2 separate regions of the Homo sapiens genome follow, and region 1 is linked to region 2. Evidence: fine-mapped expression QTL. Tissue or cell type: testis. Region 2 holds a variant in brackets; the other region holds the start of a gene. All regions are shown on one strand. Distances are from middle to middle.

Evidence for each region. PIP is the estimated chance that this variant, and not a neighbour inherited with it, causes the effect.
Region 1: PWRN2 starts here. The variant in region 2 is fine-mapped to the expression of PWRN2 in testis (GTEx, PIP 0.94).

Annotation. Positions count from the first base shown.
Region 1 is chr15:24,164,921-24,173,061 of GRCh38, forward strand. PWRN2 (Prader-Willi region non-protein coding RNA 2) reads right to left here and starts at 5,028. Exons shown (of 2, transcript NR_152824.1): 1 at 4,853-5,028; 2 at 1-3,975. All of the region lies in intron 2 of LOC105370732 (a long non-coding RNA gene), which reads right to left. It also overlaps a transcript of LOC105370733 not described here.
Region 2 is chr15:24,145,408-24,153,548 of GRCh38, forward strand. The region is part of intron 2 of LOC105370732 (a long non-coding RNA gene); the gene reads right to left. It also overlaps a transcript of LOC105370733 not described here. Among named protein-coding and RNA genes, the nearest start is that of PWRN2, 20 kb to the right of the region's middle. The variant G/T (reference allele first, on the strand shown) is at 3,812.

The sequences.
Region 1 (8,141 bases), 20 kb after region 2:
CTACATTCCATCTTGGGATTGTTTGTTTGTAGTGCACAAGATGCATCCCTGTGTAATTTTCCGAGTGATGTTTTGAAAGTGTGGTCTACTGAGGTGTGGTTGTACTAGGTTGGCGAGGACATCACTCCCATAGTGCATTCCTTTATGTAGATGTTTTGAGATTGGATAAACCAAGGCCTTGGGGTTTCATCATCCTGTAGGCGTTATCTTATAGGTGTCAGTTTTCTAGGGGAATTGGAATCTCTTTTCTCAAACCCCTGGCTTGGGCACGTTTGGGATCTTGTTCAGTGTAATGAGGTTTAAAATCTAGTAATTCCAAATGGAGTATTCATGTCCCAGGACCTGTGCCTCCCAAGCAGCTCATTTTGCAGCTTTGCCAGCTGCCTGGTTACCTTCGGTTGTGAATTATGTCTCTGGTGTTGGGGAAGTGCATGATGGAAGCCTGGGCAGGCAAGGCAATTGCCTTTACTAGGTCCAGAATTTCTCTTGGGTGTTTAATGTCTGTATTTTCTGATTTCAAGCAACCTCCTCTATGTTTCCAGATCACCCAATTGGCGTGCATTTCCAGGAATGCATATATGGAATCAGAATAAATCTTTACTCCCATTTCCTGGGACAGTTCTAAAGACTCAGGTAAGAGCAATTAACTCAGCTCTTTGTGCGGAGGTAGCTGCAGGAAGGGTATGGACTACTATTACCCTTTTGGTAGTCACAGTGGCACATCCGGCTCTGTGCACATCTTTCATTAAGCTGCTCCCATCAGTGTAGTTCAAGTCCAGAGCACTCATTGTCTAGTTTGACAGGTTCAGCATGCTTGAATAAGCTGCATCAAGGATTTACAGTCATGCTTTAACCCAGGATTGTGTTCAGTGGCTGAGAGCAGTGTGGCAGGGTTTAGAGCCATGGTGGTTTGTAGGGTGATATTTGGATCATATAAGAGGATGGCCTGGTATCTGCCCACTCACCCCACAGTGAGCCAGTAGCCTCCCGTTTGTTCTAGCAGAGTCAGCACCTGATGGGGTACAAACAAGGTAACTGGCTGTCCCAGAGTAAATTGTTCTACTTCCTGTAGGACTTCACAGTGGGTGCTCTTGCCCAGAGGAAGGGGAGCCATCCCTTAATCTTTGGTGTAATTGTTTAGAGAAATAGGCCATGGATTGTGGGGCATCTCCCAGCATTTGCATTAGCACAACCCACACCTATGCTTTGTTTCTCTTGGATATAGAGTTTGAACAGCTTTTGGGAATTTGGTATCCCAGTGCAGGGGGTGATATCAGCTTTTCTTTGATGGTATAAAATGTTTGTTGACCTTTAGATGTCCAGAGAAGGGCCTCTGAGTCTAGTGAATCCTTTAAGGATTCATAAAGTGTTTTAGTCATTAGTCCAAACTTAGGAATCAAATCTGGCAGAAGCTAACCCTTTCTAAGAATCCCCATGGTTGCCCCCATTCTCTGGAGCTTTATGGCTGCTATTGCCTGTTTTTTGTTTTTTTTTTTTACCAGACCAGGCTCCTTTGGCCTTGCTTTAACCTAAAGCCAAGACAGGTTACTTTCTACTTACATATTTGGGGCTTCTTGGGAATACTTTGTATCCATATTGTACCAGGTGATTTAGAACTAAAATGACATCAGCTAAGCATTTCCTATAGTTGTGGCTGGCTATTAATTATCTATGTGTTGTAGCCAGGCTTCTTAATCTTGTTGTAGGTCTCCTAAGTCTTTTGCCAGTATTTCCCCAAAAATTGTTGGTGCATTTTTTAACACATTGAGACCCCACTGTCTAACAGTATTGAAAGGTTGTTTTAGTCTCTCGGTCCTGTCATTAAAAATAATAATGATAATTGTTGGGTCTTTTCTTCAATTGGAATGCAGAAGAAAACATCTTTCAGATCTAGCACTGAAAAGCATTCATAATGTCTATATATAGCAGTCAGTAGAGTATCTGGGTTAGGCACCACTGGGTGAATATCCAAGACTATTTTATTAACGGTTCTCAGGTCTTGGGCAAATTGATATTTGTAGAAGTGTAGCTTCCTTACAGGCACGATAGGGCTATTATATGGGGATCTGCAAGGATGAATCAGTCCACTTCTCAAATTTTTGAAAGACAGGCTGTATTCCTTCTAAGGCTTCCTTTCTTAATGTATACTGATTTTTTTATTCGCCTCCTCCCCGCCGCCCAGGTCACAGTAGCCCCTTCTATTTTTTCTATATGCACTCACTGTATATTTCTTGTTTTTCCTGGGATTCCTTCTGCCTATTCACAATTACGCACTCTCTCATAGACTTCTGAGGGAGAATTCTTGTTTCTTCTTAAGGCAAGTGAGTAACATCTTAGTTGCAGTGCTTGCTTTAGCAGGACCTGCAGCCATAGTTGTTTCTCTGGGGATAAATTACTTGAGTATTTAATTTGCATAATGGGTCTTTTCCCAGCAAGGGAATTGGGCATTCTTACATATAGAAATAGCAGTGCCTTAGGTCCAAACTTTCTAGTTTGCATTCTAAAGGTTGTAGGAAAGCCTTTTGTTGCATTATTCTTGCAACTCCTATCACAGGTACAATCATTTTGGTGCTTTTTGCTCATAAAGTGTTAAAACTGAATAGTTTGCCCAGTATCAACCAGGAAATCAATTAACTTTTTCCTCACTGTCAGTTGTACCCAGGGTTCCTGTGGGGAAATTTTAATTGTCTCTGAGTGATTAAGGAGAGTCCCCAGGCATCACTCTCTGTGGTCAGAGCAGTGACCCTGCTCCATGATTTGACTTTGAGCTTTTTCCTCATCATATTCCTCCTTTTTCTGGCCCCTTGGTCCTTTCTTTTGGGACAGTCATCCTTTCAGTGGCCTTTCTCCTTACACTAGGCACACTGGCTGTGTTCCAGAGGCTTGCCTCGATTTTTCTGATGCAGAGGCTTCCTTGTTCATTCCACGTTTATGGTTGAAACTTCTGTTTCTTTGTCTCTGGAGCGGGGAAGGGGTCATTCCTAGTGAGGCTTCCTGTTTTGGTACCCCTTTCCTGAGTCCAAACAGGAAGAATGTTTGTGAATATTCCAGATGGGCCATGTCCCCTTATCAATTGGAGCCCCAATTAGGGTTTGCATCCAGAATGGTCCCTTCAGGTTTGGGGTATTTGGATTTGTTTCATGGAGGCACCAAGACTCTGGACCTTCTTTGGTCTGCAGTCAGAAACATATTTAGGAGAGACTACACATCTGCTCAGGTACGCTGGTGGGTAGCACAGATAGACACATAGAGATCAGTCATTTTCTGGGGATCCATTGTATAAAGTGGGGTGGAGTTTTTCCATTTCACAAGTTAGATGTTGAAAATGGGCTGGATGTCCAGTAATGTCTGACAGGTTGCCCACTCTCATCCAAGCCACCCATGGCCATCCCTGTAAACGGTAATTCCTTTGCTCCGGCCATGGCAATTCCTTGCTAAATCATGTTCCCTGTCAAGCACTGGAGGGAGAGGCCGTCTCTGTTCTCTCATTATACTGAGGCGGCAGAGTAGCTCCCTCTTATTGGTCTGATGCCTCACTTGGTAGCATCAAGGCAATCCGGTCCAACGCAGAGGCCAGTGCTAAGGGCCCCGTATGGTGGTACTGCAGTGGGAGCTGTTGAGGTGGAGCAGAGGCCAGGTGCGTTCTGGCTGTGGTGGTTGGAGCTGCTAAAACAGCTTGGGTGTAGGACATTTAAAAGTCCTAATTCTTCTTCATTGCTTTCTGCCTGAGTTTGGCTCTCTGGCTTGTGAAGAGCCTTTTTTCCATTCTGTCCTTTGGTATAGCTAGCAGCTGGCATCTTCCCTCATGGTATGAATCCTGATTTTCGAAAAGCATGAAGGCTTGGACATATGGTAGTTTTTCCTAATTTTCCAGACCTCTGACAAAATGAGTCTAACTGCATTAAAGGCTAATATTGGTTGCGTCCATTCAGAGGTCAAAATTTATAACCTAACTTGTCCACAGTCCAAACAGCACTGCAATAATAGACCATTTTTCTGTTAGTCATGGGCTGATAGCTATAGGCTCTACAGTTAGCTAGGGTATGCCCCAGGGGCCTCCCAGAGGTGATAGAGACCTTGTTTCCCCTCCTGACGTGGTTTCTATGTCCATACTGCTCATCCCTGTGAAACAGTGATGACAACTTTTATTTGTTGTCTCTCTTCTGTTCTGCACTGCTCATATCCTTCAACCAGACCTCTATGGGTTGGAAAGACGTTTCTAGCTTCATATAAGCAGTGCAATTAATACCACTCATGGTCCTAAAAGGAAGACTTGTGGAAATCTCACCACACAGCTGGGACAGCCAAAGAGACCAGAGAATAAACTAGTTGGGCAGGCTAGTGATTAGCACCAGCTAGCACAGCACTCCCCCACCACCACCCTGCCCCCGCTCCACCCCCTGCCCCGGCCCACCAGCACATCAACTTCATCCCAAGTCCATGTTCTGCTGTCCTTAGTACCCTAGTAGATGGTAACCGAATGGCAACAAATTAAATGGTAAATTAGGCAGATAAAAAGGGCAGAGGGGTTGGAGTCAGGACTGCCTAAATACTTATCCCATATGCTGTTAAGCTTTTTTTCACATAAACAACATTAAGCACCATAAGCATGGTGGCAAGCCCTTTAGATAACCTATGGAATTGTTCACATCCTTCCTTTCCCCATAAAAACTGGCACAGCTGTGAGAAGTACTCCAGGGCCCTAAAAAGAGTGACCCTGCTAGGGCAGTGGAGGCTGTTTCCCTCCAGGGCCGGATCCTGGATGGAGTGGGGCTTATGCAGATCACCCTGCAGAGGAAAGGAGGAGGAGGAGAGAGAGACAGAGATGAGGGCCTAAATGTAGATATTGTACCTTTTACAGTTGCAGGTTCAGACTGCACAGTCCCGGACAGATCCCCACTAAAGGGCTGGGTAAACGTCCTGAAATCTCCTCTCAATTTCAGATGCCCTCCTGTCAATCAGCTGACTCCAAGTGGAGCAAAGCCCAGGTCTTGACGTAGATACAGATACCATACATGCCCAGATGATGTCACAAGCAGCTATATGTAAACAGAGCAGAGGTCAGGTGACATCACAGAACAGGCAGAGGCAGTTCAGGGGGTATTCTGGTTGCCTTACCCAGCTCTGAAGTCTGTCAGCCTCTTCAGATGTCACTTGCCCTGTGGTAAGGAAGTGTAGTTGGCAGCTGGTGCAGTGGCAAGAAGAGAAAGGAGGTTCCCCAAGACAGAAATATCTCAGCAGGTAAAGAGAAATTCCCTAGAGCCTCAATCATGGGATCAGCTAGTTGGAAGCAGGTGGCATTCCTGGGTAGTTTCTTTCCCTTCCAGTGAGCAGAGCGGTTAAGCCTTGGTGTGCTTGTGTGTCTGATTGCCCCACTCATTGGAAACCAGACCAATGGTTTCAGGAACTCTGAGTGTGTTCTTCCCCTCTATGTGTCCATGTGTTCTTATCATTTAGCTCCCACTTATAAGAGAACATGGAGATATTTGGTTTTCTATTCCTGTGTTAGCTTGCTAAGAATAATGGACTGCAGCTCCATTCACGTCCCTGCAAAGGACATCATCTGGTTGTTCCTTATAGCTGCATTGTATTCCATGGTGTATATGTGCCACATTTTCTTTATACAGTCTATCGTTGATGGACAATTTAGATTGATTCCATGTTTTTGCTATTGTGTATATTGCTGCAGTGGACATATGTGTTCATGTGTCTTTATAACAGAATGATTTATATTCCTTTGGATATATACTTAGAAATGGGATTGTTGGGTCAAATGGAAGTTCTGTCATTAGGTCTTTTAGGAATCATCACACTGTCTTCCACAATGGTTAACCTAATTTACACTCCCACCAACATTGTATAAGTGTTCCTTTTTCTCCACAATCTTGCCAGCCTCTGTTATTTGTTTGATTATTTGTTATTTGTTATTTTTTGACTTTTTAATATATACGTTCTGACTGGTGTTAGATGGTATTTCATTTTGGTTTTGATTTGCGTTACTCTAATAATGAGCGATGTTGAGAAGATTCAAATAAATGCAATCAGAAACAACAAGGGTGATATTACCACTGACCCCACAGAAATATAAACAACCATCAGAGAATATTATGAACACCTCCATGGACATAAATTAGAAAATCTAGAAAGAATGAAGAATTCCTGCACAAATACACCCTCCCAAGACTGAACCAGAGAGGAACTGAATCCCTGAACAGACCAAGAATGGCTCTGAAATTGAGGCAGTAATAAATAGTCTCAGTGACAAATTTTTAAAATGCCACTTAGAAAATGTACACATAATTTTGCTCTATTCAGCAAATATATCTGTAACAATCACTTTTAGGAAAGGTGTTAAAATATTTTATTATTTTTTCTCATTTAGCTTAACATTTTAAAAATACTTTTCTGCTGGCAACTATTTATATCTCCATTTTCATTGACATAGTCAATAATTTACCCACCTTTCTATTAAATAATAGTGGATCAACTGATGTGCATTATTTTATACTGAACTTTGGCACTCTTGACATAATTCATATACGAATAGTCATCCAAATGTCTTGGCCAGTGAAGATGAGATTTGTCTGCCAAGGTTGAACAGGAGTTTTCCTACCTGAAAGCGGCAAGCAGTACAAAAGCAAGAACATGGTAGATGAAATTCAGGAGTCCCACAAGCAGATGAGGATTCATTTAGGGCCTGAGAAGGTGCAGGGACCCCTCATAGGGGCCTGTGTACCACCCCAAGCATGGAAATAAAGGAAAATCTTGAGTCCCTTCACAGAAATTCCAGGCACCTCTCTACCTCTGAGAAGTACACGAGCCACTGGACAAGCAAGAAGGTAAAACAGTAGCAAGGAATGGAGAGTCATGGGAATATGGGGTTCCCTATGGAAACTAAAAATCAAAGCTTAGCATATGTCCCTGAGTTGTTGTTCAGAAAGCTGCCCCTCTACTAAATGGATCCACTGGCACATAGACCTCAGATAAAGGGGATCTATGAAATGAACTCTGCCATTCTTTATTCTCAATTTCTTCCTGAGTGGCCTATGGAATGTTACGTCTATGAGCCAAAAGTACCATTACTTTCTGCTGATCCCAAATTTTCTGACAAATTTTACTTTCTTAAATAATCACACATCAGAAAATCTCTGAATCCCCCTATGACCTGTAAGCTTCCACTTCAAGATACTTCATCCTTTTAGTCTAAAACCAATGTGTAACCTCAATATATTAATTTATGACTGTGTATTACCCCTCCCCTCTGTGTCTTTAAAATCCCCTACCTGTAAGCTGTCTGGTAGTTTTAGTCTTTATTTTATTTTATTATTTTATTTTATTTTGGGGATGGAGGTTTGCTCTCGTAGCCCAGGCTGGAGTGCAGTGACTCCATCTCAGCTCACTGAAACCTTTGCCTCCTGAGTTCAAGCGATTTTCCTGCCTCAGCCTCCTGAGTAGCCAGGATTACAGGCAGGTGCCACCATGCCCAGCTAATTTTTGTATTTTTAGTAGAGATGGGGTTTCCCCAAGTTGGCCAGGTTCGTCTCGAACTCCTAACCTCAAGCGATCCGCCCTCCTCGGCCTCCCATGGTGCCGGGATTACAGGTGTTGGCCACCATGCCCGGCCTGTCTGTGTGACTTCTTAAATGTTCTTTGATATTCTCCTGCAAACCTCATGATGTTCTCTTGTTTCTCAGATTGTAACGTGTTACATGAATTTATTCTTTCTATCCCATGCTTCCTTTTATTGATGCATTCTGTCCTTTAAGTAGTGCATTTAGAACATTGACATTTAAAGTGATTATTGATATAGTTGGATTAAAAATCTACCAAATTTGTTACCATTTTTCAGTTGTTGATTTGTCTTTGTTCTTATTTTTGTATTTCACTCATTTTCTACCTTTTGTTGTTTTGAGCACTTTATATCAGTTCATCTCATTTCTTAGCATATCTCTATTTTTTTACCTTTTTAGTGACTAGTCTAGGTAATAATTTTATGCTTAATTAATCTAACAAATAACAGCTTGTTAAAAACATTAGTTTGAATATATTTGATTAGATATGGTTAAATATATATCATTGTGTGTGTATATGTATACATACAAACATTTATGTGCATTTATTCTTATGTAAGTGAGATGAAT
Region 2 (8,141 bases):
CGACTCAGGGTTTGGTACTGGCTGTGCCTTTCATGGGATGCTTACTTATCCTGGTCGATGGCCTAAAGCCCAACCGTCCAGCTTACATCCAGGTATCCCTCTCACAGAGTACTTCTTTATACTGTAAGACACCCTGTGGCTCCTGTCTGACCTGTGTCTAGTTTATTTCTACCAAGGTAACCACTCTCTAGGAGAGTGCTAAGTGGGAGAAAAGTGATGTCCATGTGTGTTCGTAAAGTGAAATACAGAGGAGGCAACTCAACAAAATGTGTATAATGGCATGAGTCATGTATTACTAACCAATCCCAGTAAGAAGAGGGCAGCATTCCTTGAAGTGCAGATGGAAAGAGAAGAGCTCTCCAGGACATACACTCATAAGCAGCAGGGGTGGTGGAGGAGCAACTAGAGACAGACATAGTATTGCACCATTTGGCTGAAGTCTTTATGGGTGTATTTGTCAGTTGTTTTTTTTTTCCAGAGAGACAGGGAGGTAGATAGGTAGGTAGATAGATACATATATAGATGGAGAGTTGATAGATAGATAATAGTTCAATGAGCGGCATTTTGTTTGGGGATTTACTCATGTAACATTGTAGAGACGGAGCATTCCCGAGACAGCCATCTGTGAGTTTAAGGACCTTGGATGCTGTAGCGTTGGTGGCTCAGTCCAAAGCTGAAATCTTCAGAATCAGGGAAGCCCTTGGTGTAATTCTCAGTTTGGGACCAATGGCCTGAGAATCCAGGGCATTTACTGGTGTAACTTCTGGAGTTTCAAGGCCATAGATCATGGAATTCTGTTTTCCAAGGGCAGGAAAAGGAGTATACCTTCTTCAGGAGAGAGAGACAGGAAGACTTTTTAAAAATTTTTCATTTTTGGTTCTATTTGGTCCCCAAGGAGATTGTATGCTGCCTTCCCCCATTGAGGGTGGATTTTTTTCCACTAAATTCCCTGAGTCATACACCAATCTCCTCTGGAAACACCCTGGCAGACACACCTAGAAGTAATGCTTCACCAATTCTGTAGGTATTCTGTAATCCAGTCAGCGTCTTAAATTAACCATGACAAATCCAGCACCTTTCTAGTTGGCACCTATATGTGTCACCTTAAGCCATAACTAATCTTCAAATACAGACAATAACAAGGCAATAGTTCTACCTAACATTATGCAACGATCCTGTGTGCAACCAGAACACACTATACTATTTTTCTTAAGAGTAGTAGAAGTTTGTGGGTGATGTTTACTCTTCTGATACCCCATAACTTCAATACAAATATATTAAATTACTAACACTTAACTGCTAATATCAAGTTAATGCATTCTTGTGTTATGTGATAAAAGAAGAGAGAAATAAAAACAATGTTATTTGGCTAATAAATGTATATATAACATGCAAATGTATTCTTAAAGTAGATAGGAAATACTAGTGACAATTTTAATCCTTGTTTCTTTAACTGGTCACCTGGTCCTGTCTGCTATTTGTAACTCCCTTCTACTGCTACCCATTCAGTATTCTCTTTGTCTTCAGCAAGCCCCTCTGCTGGTCCTGGGTCTTTACCTGGCAGGGTGATGCAAACCTTCATTCCTGAAAGATCTGGATCATTTGTATTCTTGTCTGGAATGGTTGTAATATTCCATTGAACTTAATAACAGGGCATAGTAATACTAAGACTTTGTTTTAGTCCATTTTCTGTTACTTATAACAGAATACCTGAAACTGGGTAGTTGATAAAGAAAACACATGTGTTTCATACAGTTATGGAGGCTGAAAAGTCCAAGGTTGAGACGTTGTATGTGGCGAGATCCTGTTCCTGGTTGGAACTCTCTGAAGAGTTCTGAAGCCTACAGGGTAGCGTATGGCAATGGAGTAGAGCTTGCTGACATGCAAGATCATGTCTCCCTTCTTATAAGCCACTCTTCTCTCATAGTAGACTATTAATCTTTAAATATTAATTTATTAATCCATGAAAGGATTAATTCATTTATGGGGTCAAACTCTTCATGATCCAGTCACATTTTAAAGGTCTCACAATTCAGTACTGCCATGTTAGGGATGAAATTTCAGCATAAATTTTGGAGGGAAGCAATATTCCAACCACAGGACTCCACTTCTGACTCTAAAAATAAAGCCCTGTCACTTACAAAAAGTTTATTTAATTCCTATCGTTCAAAGGCTTAAATTGTTCTAGCACCAGCAGGAAGTTCCCAAATCTAAAGTCTCCTCTGTCAGCCCATGAAATCAAAACAAGTTATCTTCATACAAAATTCAGCAGTTGGGTTGTTAATGGTCAATGGGTTCATGTTGGCTGCTGCCCAGATAGAGTCACTTTATCAAGATAGGGGAATTGCTGTAGAGAAGATTTTATACATGTAGAGCCAGCTAAAGGAGAGAGCAGTTTTCGTATTACTCAAAACTGCTTCCCCAAATATTCAGAGGCTAGAGTTTTTATAGATAGTTTTGTGGGCAGGGGTTAGAGAAAGGGACATGCTGATTGGTTGGGTCAGGGATGAAATCTTAGGAAGTCAAAGCCATCTTCTTTACTGACTTCAGCTCCTGAGTGTGGGCCACGTATCCAGATGAGCCAGTTTATGGGTTTAGGTGGCACCCACTGATCTGTCAGAATGCAAGTTATGAAAAATACCTCAAACACCAATCTTAGGTTTTACAATAGTAATGCTATTTATAGGAGCAATCGGGGAGGTTATTAATATTGTGGCCTCTGATTGTATGACTCCTGAGCCATACTTTCTAATATTGTGGTTAATTTGTTAGTTTTACAAAGTTGATGTGGTCCCCAAACAATGAGGGGTTTTGTTTCAGGGAGGAGCTGTCATTATCTTTGTTTCAAAGTTAAGCTACAAAGTAAATTTCTCCCGAAGTTAGTTTGTTTTTGCCCAGGAATCAGCAAAGGCCTCTTGGAGGTTAAATGCAAGATGAAGTCACTTAGGTCATATCTCTCTCCCTATCATAATTTTCTTACTGTTACTGTTTTTGCAAACGTGATTCCAATTTCCCTTTGCAAGTTTCATTGCATCTTATTCTTAATGGGTGAGGTACAGAGTTGGGAAAAGGCCAAAGACCATTCTAACTTCTTCCTGCTGACAAGGGGTATACTTGGGATAGGGTTTGGCCCAGAGTAAATGGAATGAAACTGCTTTGCAGCTGCCTGCATGTATTCACAGGTGCCTGGTTGGGGTTCCTAGGCTTGCATGACCAAGATGTTAGTGCTCTCATCCACAGTTTTAGTACAGCACTTAAGTGAACAGCTGACTATAGGATAATGAGTCCTAATATAAGGAGTGGAAGTCCTAGCTTCAGAAGTCCTTATATAATTCATCTAAATCCCTGAGCGATTTGGGTGAATAGCGCCAAGAACCAGTCAGACATGGGGTCAATAGTCAAGAGAGATATGGGTCAGAGGTTGTTAGAAAGACAAATTTGGATAAACAGGAAAGAGCAAATTTAAATATACCATCTCATATCTTTTTAGTTAGTTTCCTAGTCCTCAGAATAGATCCCAGCAGTGTTTCATTCCAGGAGGCGTCACTGCAAATGAACTAGGCCCCCTTATGTGATTAAGGCAAAAAACATTTTTAATAACAGGCATTTGTATGGAAATAGAAAATAATAACAAAGATTTATATTGGGCACAATGCATCCAGATGTTAGATTCAAAGCATTTTTAAGTTGCAAAGGAGGATAGTGATGACAATCTCACATATTTCGCATCTGTATCTCAAGGGATAAGCTTCAGCCTGCAGGGCCTTGGGAAGAAGTTCGTAGCCATTTCATTGAGTCCAGGTCAGAAAAG[G/T]GGAAGAAAAATGTGAATGTGTTAGTTTGAGCACTTTAGCTCTGAGAGATTTCAGGATTCAGTACAAAATGCAGAAAACAATAAAAAGCTTAAAAACAATAGACAAGACTAGAATGTAACAACAGGTGTGCTATAGTATTTTTCTGAAATACAATGTTTCGCTCTCTAGTTCTCATTTTTTAAAGACATATCATAGTAGGACACATTTATTTGCAAAATAAGTTTTGGTATTATTATACTTAGCCTGATTATTTGCGTAAAGTTCAGCAAGAATAATTATTTGCCATATTAGCTCTTTCTAAATTGGGTTTGCTGGAACTTTGTTCCCTAAGGAATCTCGGATTGGACTTTTTTAAAGCCTTCAAGGGATGTATCTGTGCCTGCAAATACTTGTACAGATTGCTTGAAATTCTCTCTTCTTCAGCTCCCAAGATAATTTAGGAATCATAGGCCTGTCAGAATGTGACATTTTTTACTAACCACAGGTCAGGAACCCTGTACAAGGCCTGTGTAGACAGTTATGAGGTCAGTTTCTTAAGGGGCTTTTATCATGTCTGTTAGTCAACTTTAATTCCTCAAGCCTGTCTGTTTGTATCTGAAAGTAGGCCATTCCACTGGTAACATCATCACATCTTTGGTAAAATAATCAGTGTCTCCAATTGTGTTCTCTTACAAAAGAAATCAGATTCTTATTTTACTTATGTCAATAACTATATCTCCATAGTATAGAATACTCATAAATAAATAGTTTTCAAATTCTGGAGAAATCAAGTAGAGAAAATGAAATATCCTTCATCTTTTGTTCACAGGAATATACTTTACTCAATCATGAAAAGCTGTAAATAGCTGAGAAGAAAAAATGTTGTCTTGACTCTGAAAAACAACAAAAAAGATCAGCAACATTTCAAGCAACAAGTCATAAAAGGATTATTGTGGTGTTCTATTTCTTCTATTAGTTCAGTCCATGCAGTTAACTTTGTCTGACATTAGGCCTGCAGTCCTCATAAACATACCAGCTATCTCTGACAGTCCTGGAAGTTTGTTTGTTTGGTTTTGTTTTTTTCCTATTTCAATGCCACAATCTTTAGTTATCAGAAACCTGTATTCAAGAGAACATTTCAAAGAGCAAACACATTTTGAATAGTTTAAAAAAAAAAGAGCACAATAATCTGTGGGTGACAGTAATCTCAGGACAGCCATTGTTTTATTAATTTTACTTTGATTTTGTTGAGACAGGGTCTGAAGCCACGCAGGCTGGAGTGCAGTGGCACAATTATGGCTCACTGTAGTCTCACCTTCCTGGAATCAAGCAATCCTCTTTCTTCAGCCTCCAGAGGAGCTGGGACCACAGGCAAGTGCTACCACATCCAACTAATTTTTTGACTTTTTTGTAGAGAAAAGTTCTCACTATCTTGCTCAGGCTGATCTCAAACACCTGAGCTCAAGCAATCCTCCCAACTTAGCCTCCTAAAGTTCTGGGATTACAGGTATGAGCCACTGTGCCCAGTGAGGACATTACAGGCATGAGTCACTGTGTCCAATGAGGCCATTGTTAAAGACACAGTCAACAAAGAAATCTGGTCATTTCTGTGACACATAACAATTCAGCGTAATAATCATAATTATTACTGATAACATATACTAAGACATATTAGAATTATTTCTGAATATTCTTAATTTATGGTATTATAAGTTATTTGCATATGATCGATATGATATTTTTTTTTGTATCATGATACAATTGGAGACAGTAGTTACCTTGCCAAGGCTTTGGCTGGAATAGCATATTTTCATCTATGAGCAGATTGCTTTGACAAATTTAGGTTGAATAATAGAGCCAATAAAATTCCCTTGGAGAGACTGGCCTTGTACCTTCTCTACAGATTTTCTAACCTGTGGTAAGAAAAGCATGTTACCTTCTGACAGGCCTAGGAACTCCAAGTAATCTTGCGACCTCAAGATGAGAGGAATTCACCCAGTTCATAAGTTATTTGCAGGCACAATAAATCCTTGTTTGAGCTTGAGGGGCTTTTTGAAAAGTCAAATCTTAGACACTTTGTTTAAAAAAAAAGTTCCATCAATGCCAAATTAAAAGAGCCTATATGGAAAAAAAAATATCCTTGCTGCACTTTGTGAAAATAATCAGGCCAAGTACAATAAAACGAAAACTTACTTTGGAAATAAGTTGGTCTTACTATGATTTTTCTTTAGTAAAAATGGAAGACTATAGAAAGAAAAATGTATTTCAAATGAAACTATAGTACATCCTTTATTGGATTCTAGCCCTGTTCATTGCTTTCCAGTTTTATTATTTGCCTACAATTTAGCTAGACTGGATCCTAAATTCTTTGCCGGTTACAAGTCTCCAAACTAACATTTTCAATGTTTTATTTTTTTTTCCCATTTTTTTCTGACTTGGAATTAGTAGAAATTAAAACTGTGCTTTGTGTAAAGCCCTGCACACTGAAACTAGAAAACTTAAACTTTGGGAGAAACAACAGCATCTTATTTATTTACATAAAAGATTTCAGGACTATCTAGTTATATATGGACTGCTCTGTAATATAGTCTATCAGTTTTCAAGGATTGCTTTCTACTTTGTTGCTATAATCCAGCTGTGTCTCTTTTTTCTTATCTTTTCCCTTTATTTTTTATTCCCCCTATTTCTTCACAACCTTCTAGAATGAGTCTCCTTAAAAATGTAGATCCTAACTTTCTAGGAATAAACCATCCTAATGTTGAAAGATTAGGGAAAAAATATAACCAAACACTCATTTTCTTCTAAAATGCTTTCTCTGAAATATTTTGAAGAACAAGGAAAATAAAATTTTGGGACCCCAAACTCACTGTGCCAAAGGAAAAGTTGGAAACTGAGTCATGCTAATACTACCTTCCTTTTGTTCCCAAAGAGTCAGCTGTAATTTCACAAGTTTGCCTATCTTATGTAAAATGTAGATCTACCACGCACAAGACAAATGCACAATTAACTTTTACCCCATTCCTCTTTACACATGCAACCTCTGGATGCAGTGAGTGCTAATTTGGATGTAACACTTGCCTCGCTGTCTTTCCCCCATTTCTTTATCCTCCATCCACTCCTCCCTGGTCTCACCTCTATAAATATGGAAGTCAGCAAAACCTTCTTTGGAAAAAGCACAGGCCACAGAGCCTACTGTGACTTGTGTTTCTTTATCCTTAAACATGGCAAAATAATTCTCTGAATTGAATGAGATCTGTGTCAGTCATTTTTGTTTTACATAGTTCTGCACTAAACACTAAGTCAATATTTGCTACTAGTGACAGCTTTTTCCAAGTAATTGCAAGAAGTATCGTATGTATCAACTGTAAAATACATCATTATTTTACATCACAATAAAAGCATAAAACTATTGAAAAACTATGACATCACAAAAATTTTATCTCATATATGTTGCAAATAACACTTTTTGTTTGAAATGCCTGTTCCTTGGTGCCATAAAGAAATACCACTTGAATATCATTTCCTCAGCAAGGCCATTTTTATATTTTCTGCAGAAAGGGTACACTTGCCAGCAGTTTTGCAATGAGAGTACACCGAACAAAGGAGACAGGGTCATTTATAACCTGATGCTTCCACCCTACTGCTGTGTCCGGTTTCCATTGGCTGGAACAGGACCTCACATTCTATATTTGTCCCAACTGGCTAGCAACTTAGAACTTTTTAAAAGAGGCAAAGGCAGAGGAGAACAAAGGAAGGAGGAAGTAACTTTTGGAATCTGGAGAAAGGTAAAAACACCTTCAAATAAGGAAGAGGAACAGGCTATGACCTAATGCTTGCTTGGACCAGTATAAGCATGCCAGGGGAAATATTTAGGCTAAATTGTGGGAACTAAGAACATAAAGTACATTCATTTCTTTATTACGGCTAGCAGATATTTAAGAATGTTAGCACAGGTCTTTGAATAAATTTTGCTTCTAAGAGAAGTTACTATGTATTCCTAATGAGATGGGGAGGAAAGTCTTTGAAGAGGAATCTCTACTTTACTTTTTACACTTTTGAATATAAATGTGTGTATTTATGTTTTATCACTCCTATGATCATATGAGATAGAAAGTAAAAGCAAAATAGGTAATCAAGGTTTTCTAAAATTTCTCATATTTGGATAAAACTCTTCTAAATCACTGTGCGTCTCACCTTGTCCATGGATTCTTCCTACATTAGCATCATCTCTGCTAATTAGGAGCTTTGCAGATGCCATATTTGTAGTGAGAGAACTATAAGAGTTTATGTTAGATTGTTTCTCATCTACTAACGTCCCTCTCCAAATTATGATGTTAAAGATACCACCAG